Linked DNA regions of Homo sapiens: region 1 is linked to region 2. Evidence: fine-mapped expression QTL. Tissue or cell type: caudate. Region 2 holds a variant in brackets; the other region holds the start of a gene. All regions are shown on one strand. Distances are between the middles of the regions.

What was found.
Region 1: LINC02761 starts here. The variant in region 2 is fine-mapped to the expression of LINC02761 in caudate (GTEx, PIP above 0.99). The same link has a PIP of 0.9 or more in skeletal muscle and visceral fat.

The regions. Positions count from the first base shown.
Region 1 is chr11:76,213,672-76,219,032 of GRCh38, forward strand. It overlaps LINC02761 (long intergenic non-protein coding RNA 2761), which reads right to left and starts at 2,419. Exons shown (of 3, transcript XR_007062785.1): 1 at 2,316-2,419; 2 at 1,554-1,621.
Region 2 is chr11:76,206,667-76,212,027 of GRCh38, forward strand. LINC02761 (long intergenic non-protein coding RNA 2761) reads right to left here. Exons shown (of 3, transcript XR_007062785.1): 3 at 4,290-4,583. It overlaps LOC112268079 (a long non-coding RNA gene), which reads left to right and starts at 3,161. Exons shown (of 2, transcript XR_002957259.1): 1 at 3,161-3,253; 2 at 3,599-4,866. It also overlaps a transcript of WNT11 not described here. RefSeq lists enhancers at 293-960, 2,295-2,961, 2,580-2,629, 2,962-3,628 and silencers at 969-1,188, 3,841-4,010. The variant A/T (reference allele first, on the strand shown) is at 2,974.

The DNA.
Region 1 (5,361 bases), 7.0 kb after region 2:
CTCTAGAACCCACACATCTTGGGGCTCCTGACCCAAGAATGCTGTGTGACCACAACCCCAGATGTCCCCCCCAATGCCTTCTCTGTCTTCCCTAAGCCCACTACCCCTACTCAGACCTCAGCACTTTATCCCTCCCACAACAACAAAGGCTTTTCCAGAGAAAGCCAAAAGCAGCCAGTAAGGAGAAGGGTCAAGATCACGCACCCTGGGCCACGACTTTGTGGTGTGTGAAGGGGGGATGTGGTGGGGCACCGCTCAGCTCACCGCTATCGCTTCACCAAGGGACTCAAAAGAGAGTGACAGCTAGGTGTGGTGGCTCACGCCTGTAATCCCAGCACTTTGAGAGGACGAGGTGGGTGGATCACTTGAGGTCAGGAGTTCAAGACCAGCCTGGCCAACATGGCGAAACCCCATCTCTACTAAAAATACAAAAATTAGCCAGGTGTGGTGGCAGGCACCTGTAATCCCAGCTGCTTGGGAGGCTGAAGCAGGAGAATCGCTTGAACCTGGGTAGCAGAGGTTGCAGTGAGCCAAGATGGTACCACTGCACTCTAGTCTGGGTGACAGAGCAAGACTCATCTCAAAAAAAAAAAAAAAAAAAAAGCGACAGTGTTTTGCTCCACTTTTGCTGTGTACAGTCTCTGTGGCATCATCCACAAGCACACGCCTCTCCCTCCCATGTCTGCGGGTTGGCTGGGGGCAGCTGGCATGGGCTGGACTCATGGGTCCCAGGCTCCTGGTTGGGTTTGGACCTGCTCCATAGATGACTCTTTCTAGCCTGGAACCAGCACTCCCTGGGCCATGCTCTTCTCACCACCAAACCAGCCTGTGCCATAGGACGAGCCATGAATGTGAATGAAGGAAGACCACAGGTACTCTCCCTCTCCCGACCCCAGGCCACCTGGCAGATGCTGGCTTCCCAGAACCATTTTTGTTTTGTTTTGTTTTGTTTTGAGACAGAGTTTCGCTCTTGTTGCCCAGGCTGGAGTGCAATGGTGCAGTCTCAGCTCACTGCAACCTCCACCTTTTGGGTTCAAGCGATTCTCATGCTTCAGCCTTCCAAGTAGCTGGGACTACAGGTGCCCACCACCACACCCGGCTAATTTTTGTATTTTTAGTAGAGACAGGGGTTTCACCATGTTGGCCAGGCTGGTCTCAAACTCCTGACCTCAGGTGATCCACCCACCTTGACCTCTCAAAGTGCTGGGATTACAGGCATGAGGCACTGCACCGGCCAGAACCATTTTTTGAGATCCCTCATCCTGGTCCTGGACACATCTCGAGGGAGGGCAGGGCAGGGCAGAGGCCGTCATCACCATTTCCCATTTCTCATTGGTTACAATGAGACTAAAGCGTACTGCTTCCACCACCAGGGTGCTTTTAGAAAGGCCTTTCTGAGAAGACACATGAACAGGGGGTCTGAGCAGAGGAACCCAGCCCAGCTGTTTCTGGCATGCCCTGTGAGGCCAGATCTTCCAGGCAAGGGTGGGGTAAGGGGACAAAATAGCAGCAGGCCTGTCATCAGAGCACCTGGGCCTGGCTGTCAGACTCACCTCCTCCACTTACCCACCGAGGGACTCCGGGGAAGTCACTCAGCCTCTGGGATCCTTAGTTTCATCATCTGCAAAACAGAAAGCCACGAAACCACTCCTTCTCGATGTTATTGAGAAATAATGTTGTAAGAAGTCATATTGGTTGAACAAGCACCTACTGTGTGCTAGGCAGTTTCTGTGCCTATGCCTGAGACAGGCATTGCTCTGCAGATAAGCACACTGGGCCAGGTCTGTCAGGTAATTCATACAAGATCTCTCTGTCAGTGAGTGGGCCTGGCTGCAAACCCCGGGTCTGTGGGTTTCTGGAACCTCTGCCCACTGCCCAGGGTAGGGTATGTCTTCCTCCTCCCCTTCAGTTACCTCAGGGGAGGTATTGTTATTTTACAGGGCTCAGGGAGCAGGCCTGGGGGCACCACGGAGAGATGGGAGGTGTCTTTCCTGGGTGCACATAACAAAATGCCACCCGTCATGTCTACTGAGGGCGTCACATCTGAAAGCCTGCTTTCAACTCTCAGTTGTTTAATCATGGTGGTGGCTGCTCAGGAGACAATGTGTGTGTTTCTCAGGCCTCTTTCAGCTCCAGGAGAGAAGAAACCCAACCCCAACCAGCTTCAACACCAGAGAAACTGGTTCCTGCAGGAGAAACTGGGGTGGCTGGTGGCCCTACTGCACTCAGGAGGGCTCAGGGCTGGTGCTGGTCCCCTGGAGATGCTGTGCTGTCTCAAACTCACTTCTCCTTCTTCCTCCTCTCTTTGAACTCACCCGGGCCTCATTTCTCCCCATTGGGATGCAGCCACCAACAGCCCCAGTTAGAAATTCCAGTCAAATGAGACCTCTGTCTCCTTGGGCCTCTGAATCAGTCCCAGGGAAGGCGGCTGATTGGCCTTGTTTGAGTCACGCACTCTCCCTCTGATGGACATCTGTTATTGCCACGGGAAACTGGCTCTGGGCATGGCTGGGTGCAGTGCCTGTCACCAGAAGAGGAGGCATAGGAAGCAGTGGGCCACAGGGGCATTTGTGTCAGGATGGCAGTTTCTTTTATGGTTGGGCCTCTGCTTCTCTGATATGTGTACAAATCAGCGTCTCTGCACCTGGGAGAAGAGAGGCGGCATTGTCTGAGTTTCACCCCATCACACGCACACACAGGGCCAGAGACCTACCATGCTCAGTGCCCCGACTGTACACATAGAGAAACTGACGCCGAGAGAGGGGTCGCACATCACTCGGTTAGTGGTGCAGGAGACAGATATCAGGTCTCCTGACATCCAGGCATAAGCCATGCAGTTATTTGTCACTGGTTCTGAAGCCTTTCTGAGCAGGCCAGTGAGGCAGCTTTTTAGTAGCACCAATTCCTCCCATCCCAGAACATAAAGACTCTTTGGAATGTGACTCCATGCAAAAGCGAAGGCTCTGTCCCCACCCCTCCATCTGGGCTGACCTCATGGCTTGCTTGACTAGTAGATGTAGCCTGTGTTCTGCTGCCCAGGACTCGGGGCCTTGCAGCTTCTGCCTTCACCCTGTTGGGGCCCAGCCCAGCTGCAAGGTCAGAAGCCCAGGCTGGGGCAGAGAGAGGCCTTGCTGTATCGGCTGGCCCATCAGTCAAATGCAGCCACGCGAGCGAGCCCAACAAGGTCAGCAGAGCTGCTGGGTCAGCCCACAGAAGCACGAGAGTCAATTATGGCTTTAAACTACTAAATCTTGACATGGTTTGTTATGTAGCAATAGAGACAAGAAGCAGCCAGGCTTAAAGAGTGAAAAAGCTAAATATATACACAATTATTTGTCTAATGTCATTTCAGAATCTTAGAATCTTACCGTTGGGCCACCCCCTCTCATAACCCCAAGGTGCTGGCCACCAGAGGCCCTGTAATGTCTCCACTGATCTGGGGCAGCATGTGGCCAGTGATAGCTCTGTCATGTGCTGCTATGTCCCCAGTACTGCACCAGGGCTGGACAAACAGTAATTGCTCCAAAGTTGCCAGGGATTGGAGCTCACTCCCTCCAGGATGGTGTCTTCCATTATGAATGGCTCTGTCTTGGAGAAGATCCTCCTCCGTCTAGAGCAGAGACCTCTGATTCCCCCAGGGGTCCTGGCTGTCTTCCTGGGGTCCCCTCTTATATAGGATAGCCTTAGGCACATCACGATGGTCCCTAGCATTACAAAGCAGCACAACCTCACTTAATAACAAGTATTTTTATGTACATGGTGTCCCCGGACACAGATATAACCCTAAGGGAAGTGCTTCCACCTGGCCCTAAAACAAGCATGGGCTCTGGATCACACAGTTTGGGGTTGCAACTCGAAAGCAACTTCTGTTTGGCCTTGGAAGAGACACTTCATGTCTCTGAGCCTCAGTTTTCTCACCTGAAAAATAGGAGGAGTGAAATTTATTGCCTGGGTTGCTGTGGGGCTTAAAGGAGAGATGATGTATGTAAAATGCTCAGCACGTAATCGGTCCTTGATAAAGGTTAGTTCCTTTTCTGCCAGGTACGTAAACAGTTCCAGATGGAGAGCTCATCTGTACTTAGCATTCATGTCTATATAAATAATGTGCAGGTGGGAGAGGAATTGTCAGGTGGCCGGGGAAGGGGGAGGGCGTTCCCAGCAGGGGAACAGTGTAAGCAAAGACAAGAAGAAGTTTGCTTTCAGAGAAGGGTAAGTGGGTGGTTCGGTGCTGCTGGCATGAAGAGCAACAGGAGGGAGAATAACGGGAGAGGAAGCCAGGCCCATGCCACGGAGGGCCTTCAGTGCTGGGCTAGGGAGCTTGGGCTTTGCCAAGAGAGACATGGAGGAGGTCTGAAGAGGGAAGGGGTAAGGTCAGGTTTGGGATTCAAGTCTGGGGCAGGTCTGGGGTTGGATGGGGAGGTGAGGGGAGATGGAGCTCCTGGAAGCCTATGAGGGGAAAGTGGGGTAGCAGCAGGAATGACTTGGGCTAGTGGAGGGGAGGGACAGCCTGGCCACTAATGCAGCAGCTGAGCCACCTGCATGGACACATCTGTTGTGGGAAGCAGGGCCCTTAGTCCTCTGGTCTAGCACCTCTGCTCTGCATCTTCAGTGCCAAGCCCTGTTGGGAAGAGCACTTTTTCTGTCCTTTTCAATCCAGGAACAGACTGTGAGAGGGAGAAGACCTGGGCTAGATCTGTAGCCAGAAGGATGCGGGGTAGACCAGAGGGGAACTGACTTACCTGTCTGTTTGGTGGGGATTCAGAGAAGTCCCTCTCAAGGTCCGTTTGCTCATTTTATTAACCATCCCAGACCTCAAGTTGAGCTTTCCAGTTTTCTAAGCCCTGCCACAGTTATGGGCAGGCTCCTTTGAGACTTGCCACTGGCTTGAGAGGGAGGCTGGGCAGAGGTGATTAGCTCTGTTGTTAAGATGGGGAGACCTAGGCCCAGAGAGGGCAAGTGACTTACCCAAGACCACACAGCAAGTGCATAGCAGAGCTACCCTGGAACCCAGTTCTCCTGCCTCCCACTAACATCCTAGTTCCTTTCCATGGCACTGAGGGACAGGCAGGACGTTCTCACTTACCTGCTCTGGGTGAAGAGTGAGGAGAGCCAGAGAGAGGTTGACAGCCATCAGCAGACAACACTTAACCCAAACTGACAATTTAATTGTGAAAATGTGGACGAGGTATAGTTATGTGCAAGGAAATCCAGACGGTCTGGGCCCCTGGGGAGCCTCGGCCAGCACCCCAGTTGCCAGGGAAACAGGAGAGGGTTGTGGATGATGTCACTAGACTCTGAGCCGAGGCTGAGGTATGGGGGTGGGCTCTCCATCCACCTCTTTGGGGCTGTAGGCTCTCATCC
Region 2 (5,361 bases):
GCGCGGCCGAAGGCGTGTCTCCCAGCGTGGCCCCGGGCCCCAACGCGCCTTCGAGCCCCTCTGGCCGGGGCAGCCGGAAGGAGGGACAGGAGGCGGCAGAACCGGAGACCCAGGAGAGACCGGGCAGACACAGCGAGAGGGAGAAGGACGCTCAGAGGACAAGGCTGAGAGCCACGGAGACAGAGGGGGAAACCCGGACAGACGCAACCTGGGACGGAAAGGAGAGGAATGAGGAATCAGGAGTCCAGGCGAGGCAGCAGAGTCGAGGACCCGGAGCTGGGGCTTATCCCTGCAATATTGAGCATTAGTTAATAGGGCCTCGGCAATTCTCCTTCCCAAACGTGTTTCAGTTTACCTCCTCAGTAAGCTGGGGCAATTCGGGCACAATTCCGCTTTTATAAAGAACGTTCCCTGGCCGGGCAGGGTGGCTCACGCCTGTAATCCCAGCACTTTGGGAGGTCGAGGCGGGCGGGTCACCTGAGGTCAGGAGCTCGAGACCAGCCTGCCCAACATGGCAAAACCCCGTCTCTACTACGAATACAAAAAATTAGCCGGGCGTGGTGGCGGGCGCCTGTAATCCCAGCTACTCGGGAGGCTGAGGCAGGAGAACCGCTTGAACCCGGGAGGCGGAGGTTGCAGCGAGCGGAGATTGCGCCACTGCACTCTAGCCTGGGCGACAAGAGCGAAACTCCGTCTCAAACAAACAGACAAACAAAAAAAGTTCCCTAACACGATCGCATCTGCTCCTCCCAGCACCCCGTGAGATAGGCACTATCGCTGCCTCATCTCACAGATGAGGAAACTGAGGCACAGAGGTGGGGTTCAGCTAGGGAGCGGCAAGCCGGGTGTCCGGCGAAATCAGGAAATGGGGCTTGCTCGGGGCCCTGCTTTCTCGGTGTGGGAAGGGGAGGATGGGAAACGGGATGGTAGGGCTCTTTGTACAGTGAGGATTCCGAGTCTCCAAGTCCGTCTTTAGCCGCTCCACTTTGGAGGGTGGGAGTGGAAGCATGCGGGCTGGGACTGGGCAGCCCCGCCTTAGCGAAGCGGGGAAGCTCGCGGGGCTGGCGCGGTGTTGCCTCTGGCCTCCAGGCGGCGCCCTCGGGCCGCGGAGGAGAGGCTGCCCCGCCCGCCCGCAGCCCGCGGAGCAGCTATCTCCGCTTTTTTTCTCCTTCACTTCATTCTCACCTCATTAACTCCCTTCCCAGCTTCTCCCAAATTTACCAACACCTGGCGTTCGCCCGGAGTCAGACACAGCCCCAGCCCCTCTCCCCTCGGGAGGAGCAGAGACAAAGGGATTCCTTTCTAAGGGTTTGGGGAGTTGGAAAAGGAGGCGCCCACGGTAGTGGGGGCGCTGGAGCAGAAAAGGGACGTTCTTATCTGGCTCTGTGAGCTTGGGCAAGCCCTCAGCCACCCCAGCCTCGGTGTCCCCTTCCATAAGAACGAGGAATGGGGCTTCGCCGTGCGTCCCCCGAGGACCCCGTCTCCCTGCAGCCTGCGGGGCTCAGCGCCCCTCTGCTATTTGCACCGCGACGCCACCTGCGTGGCGCGTTCCTGCGCGTGGGTAGTCAGCACGCAGAGATGGGAAGCCCCACTGTTTTCTGGAGCCTGTCGGCAAAACCCACAGGAAGGCGAGGAGAAGCCTGGATCGTACAGTTTTTTTCCTCCGCAGAGCCCCGCAGCTAGCGCCCAGCACAGGGGCGCCTGCGACAAACATGCCGTCAAGGCTGGGGGTCTCAGAGGGGTTCTCGGTGTAACCCAGTCCCGTCCTCCCACCCAGCCTGTATCCAAATCCTTTGTCTTCCTGGTCCTGCAAGTTTCTTGCACTTCTCAGAACGAGAAAAATATCCGCTGGATATGGAGGGGGGAATCAAAACTCCAGTCACCGTCTTCCCCTCTCCCAAAGTGCGCCGCCCCCCGAAGGCACCCGGCATTCCTGGGTGGGGAGGGGGCGGGGGCTGCAAGAGGACGGAGGCGCGCGGACTCACAGCGGGGGATCTGTGTCCAGCCTGGTCTCCCAGGGAGAGGAGGAGCCCCCTAGGTCGCACAGCGGACGGGGACCCAGGCCTCCAGCCCCGCCCAGCTCTTTCGGTGCAGCCCCGGCTGTCCCAAGGCTCTCCCTCCGCCGCCCAAGCTCGTCGCGCGGGGAGGCAGCGCCTGGCCCGAGCCTCTGGGTCCTGACGGACTGTTCCTGTCCCTTGTACGAGCGCCCGGGACAGCCGCGCAGGCCACGGGGTCACCTTCCGCCTGAGCTCGCGGGTCAGGGTGCACGCGCCTCCTGAAGCCCCCAGCCCGCCAGGGGGCGCTAAGCCGGGGCTCGAGGAGGGGGGAATCGCGGCTGCCTCCTGCGTCGCGGGCTGGGGTCAAGTCCTCTTCCTGGGCCCCCGCTTCTCCGTCTGGGGATGGGACGACGTGTCGAGGGAGTGCCCCCTGTGTCCTGGTCGTTCTATAGGACACTTGCCGTGGGCCGCCCTGACCTGCCCGGCCCCTTGCTTGGGGCCGGGCGCGTAGTGGGCCGCGCCAGGCGTAGCACCTTTGGAGAGCGAGCGGTCACCTCCTCGAAGTTGGTCCGAGCTACCCTGCCTGCAGCGGGCCCGGGAGGCGGCCGCCTGGGGCTGTGCACAGGGAGAACACCACGAGCGCAGCGCCGCAGCCCAGCGCCGCCAACAGATGGTCATAGGCCCGGTCTGTGGAGGACTCTGGAAAGCCGGCCGCTGGGACCAGGCCACGCCGGCCCGGCGAGGACTTGCGGGGTCCCCCCTACCCCGACGCCCCACGGGCACCGTGCACCGGGGCCGATTGTCCGCGCGGCGCGCAAGGTCGGCACGGGCGGGTCCCGAAGCCTCCCGCCACGCAGCTCACGGAGCTGACCCCGCCAACCAGGGACGCCGAGCGACGGCTTCAAGGTTACCTGCGGGGCGGGGCGAGGCCGGGCCTGCCACCCGGCTTTGACCCCAGCCGTGAGGCTTTCGAGAG[A/T]CGTCTGCTTGGCTGCGCACGCGGCGCCGGGTCACCCGGGAGACGGGTTGTTTTGGAAGTGGGAAGGGTGGGTGGGAGCACTCGAGATCCCTCCTGCTAACCCCCTGGAGCCGGACCCTGCACGCCCAGGGCCTTGAGGGACACCGAGGCACTTCAGCCCCGGGGGTGGGAGGCGTGGAGCTCGTGCGCGAGCTCAGCCAGATGTTCCGGGCGGTTGCAGATGTGCCTCGGGGCCGGGGACAGGACTTTCCTCCTCCCTAGCCCCCAGCCTGGAGCTCAGGTCAGTAAACAAACTCGGTTCTCCCCCTCCCCCCGCCGCCCCTGGGACCCGTTCTCAAAGCCAGGCTTCTGCCCCCATCCCCAATTTACTAGGCGCTGCCGCATTTCTTTGCCTTTTGCCACCCTTTCCCCCCGCCCACCACACACACCCTCTGTCGCGGGATCCAAGTCCCCCACCCCCGGGGGTGGCTCGGGCATGACCTCATCCGCCGAACGACTGGGAAGGAGGGGGTCGCCTGGGGTGCGGGGGCAGAAGAGGGGGGCCGGGCCGGGAAAGTTCGAGGAGGGCCGCAGGAACTGCACAACCCACCACCGTCCCGCGTGCCCCTAAACCCCGCGTCCCCAGGCTCCCGAGGCTTCGCTCCGCAAAGGGGAACTCTTCGGAGTGCTGCGGGGGAAAGGTATGGAGGAGCGCTTGGTTTGCTTACCCGGGAGTGGGTGCCCAAGGGGGTCGTGGCGGGTGCGAGAAGCGTCGTCCCCCTCGGACTCGGGCGCCCCCAGCCCTGGCGGGTCCCCGCTGAGCGGCTGCCCGCTGCCCGCGACCACTGCTCACCTCCCGGGGCGCTCGCCAGGCGCGCCCTGCGTGCCCGGGTGCCCCGGCCTGCCCAGGGAGCGGCGAGTGCGGTTTCCAGCGGGCCCGTGCGCACTCCGGCTGGGCGAGCGGCGAAGGCGCCCTCTTCGTGAAGCGGCGCGAGAAGGACGCCGGGGATCCTGGCAAGCTGCGGCCGGCTCAGGACCCGCGCGGAGTCAGGCGCGGACTCCGGCTGCTCTCTGCTGCGCTCAGCTCCCGTGGCCTGTGCTCGCCGCTCGCCCGAGCTCTCCTCCTCGCCTGGCGCGATCTCCGGCGCGAGCCTCCCAAACTGCTTTATAAGGCGGGCGGCCGCTTTGATCCGCCCACGTCAGCGCGTCGCAACCCCACCGGGTGGCCCCGGCCGCGCGCGGGGGGCGGGGGCGGGGTCCCCGCGGACGCCACTGACCGGCGGCGCCCGCCGCTCCAGAGAACTTAGTACTCTGTCGAGTTACAAAGGGGGACTCGCTCACTACAGCTGGTGTTTACTAAGCGTGCGTGCTGCGTGCCTGCGACACGCGTGGGGCCCGGGTAAGGCCCATCTCGAATCGTCGCAGCAACCAGGCAAGGAGCCTCAACTGGCAGGGGGAAGTCAGACTTGGGTCTCAGTCTGGAGCCGGGGCATCCTTAGGTGTTGGTCGCGCAGCGTGGTTACTGTAGACGTCTGAGGTCCCGAAACCTGCCTTCGTGTCCTAGTCCTGGTCCTTCGGGGGGCCATCTCTTCTGGCCTCTGGTTCCAGTTGTGGAAAAGGAATCAACGATCCTGCAAGAGAAAGAGACACGAGGACTCCGCGCTACAAAGCCCGCTGTAAACCTTAGGTGTGGAGCTGGGCGGCGTCCCAGCCGTTGGGGTGACTGCTGGGGAGTGTTCTGGACACAGGGGAGGGGGAGCAGAGGAGGACTGGGTTTCCTAAGTTAAAGGAGCCTAGAGAGGCACCTCCTGCGTCGAGTAGCCCAGGCGTGTGGTGCTTCTGGACCCCCTCACTTGGCCTCCCCTGAGCAGACCAGCTGCTTACCCCACAACATGACTGCGATTTCTAACTGCCCATCGGGTGCTGTGGGTTCATCCATGTCTCCCCCTCCTTCTAGGGGCCTCAATCCCAGGACGTCCTCAAGGATAACTGGTTCATTAGCAGAAAGGGAAATGGAGACTTAGTGAGGACACGGAGCCTGTCTCAGGTCCCCCAAAATGCCTGACATTCTTTTCCCCATTCTTTGCAGCTGCAGATGAAGTGGCACTCCTAGGCTGCCCCACACCCAGCTACAGGTACCTCCACATACAACACAAACATCTGGGCCCACAGTGCCCATAGCAGCCTCCCAGCCATACCAGTACTCCCACACAGCCAGTCCTCACACACAGGCTGGGGCATATCACCCCGCATATGGTTACAAACACACTCGGGAGATACCAGGACATATCATCTGCCCTCACACACAGTAGCACAGAGGTGTGAAATGGCCGTACACACATCATGAAGGGGAGGCTGCACACAGACCACCTGCGCGCACACAGTTCAGGTGCAAACATGCGTGAGCTT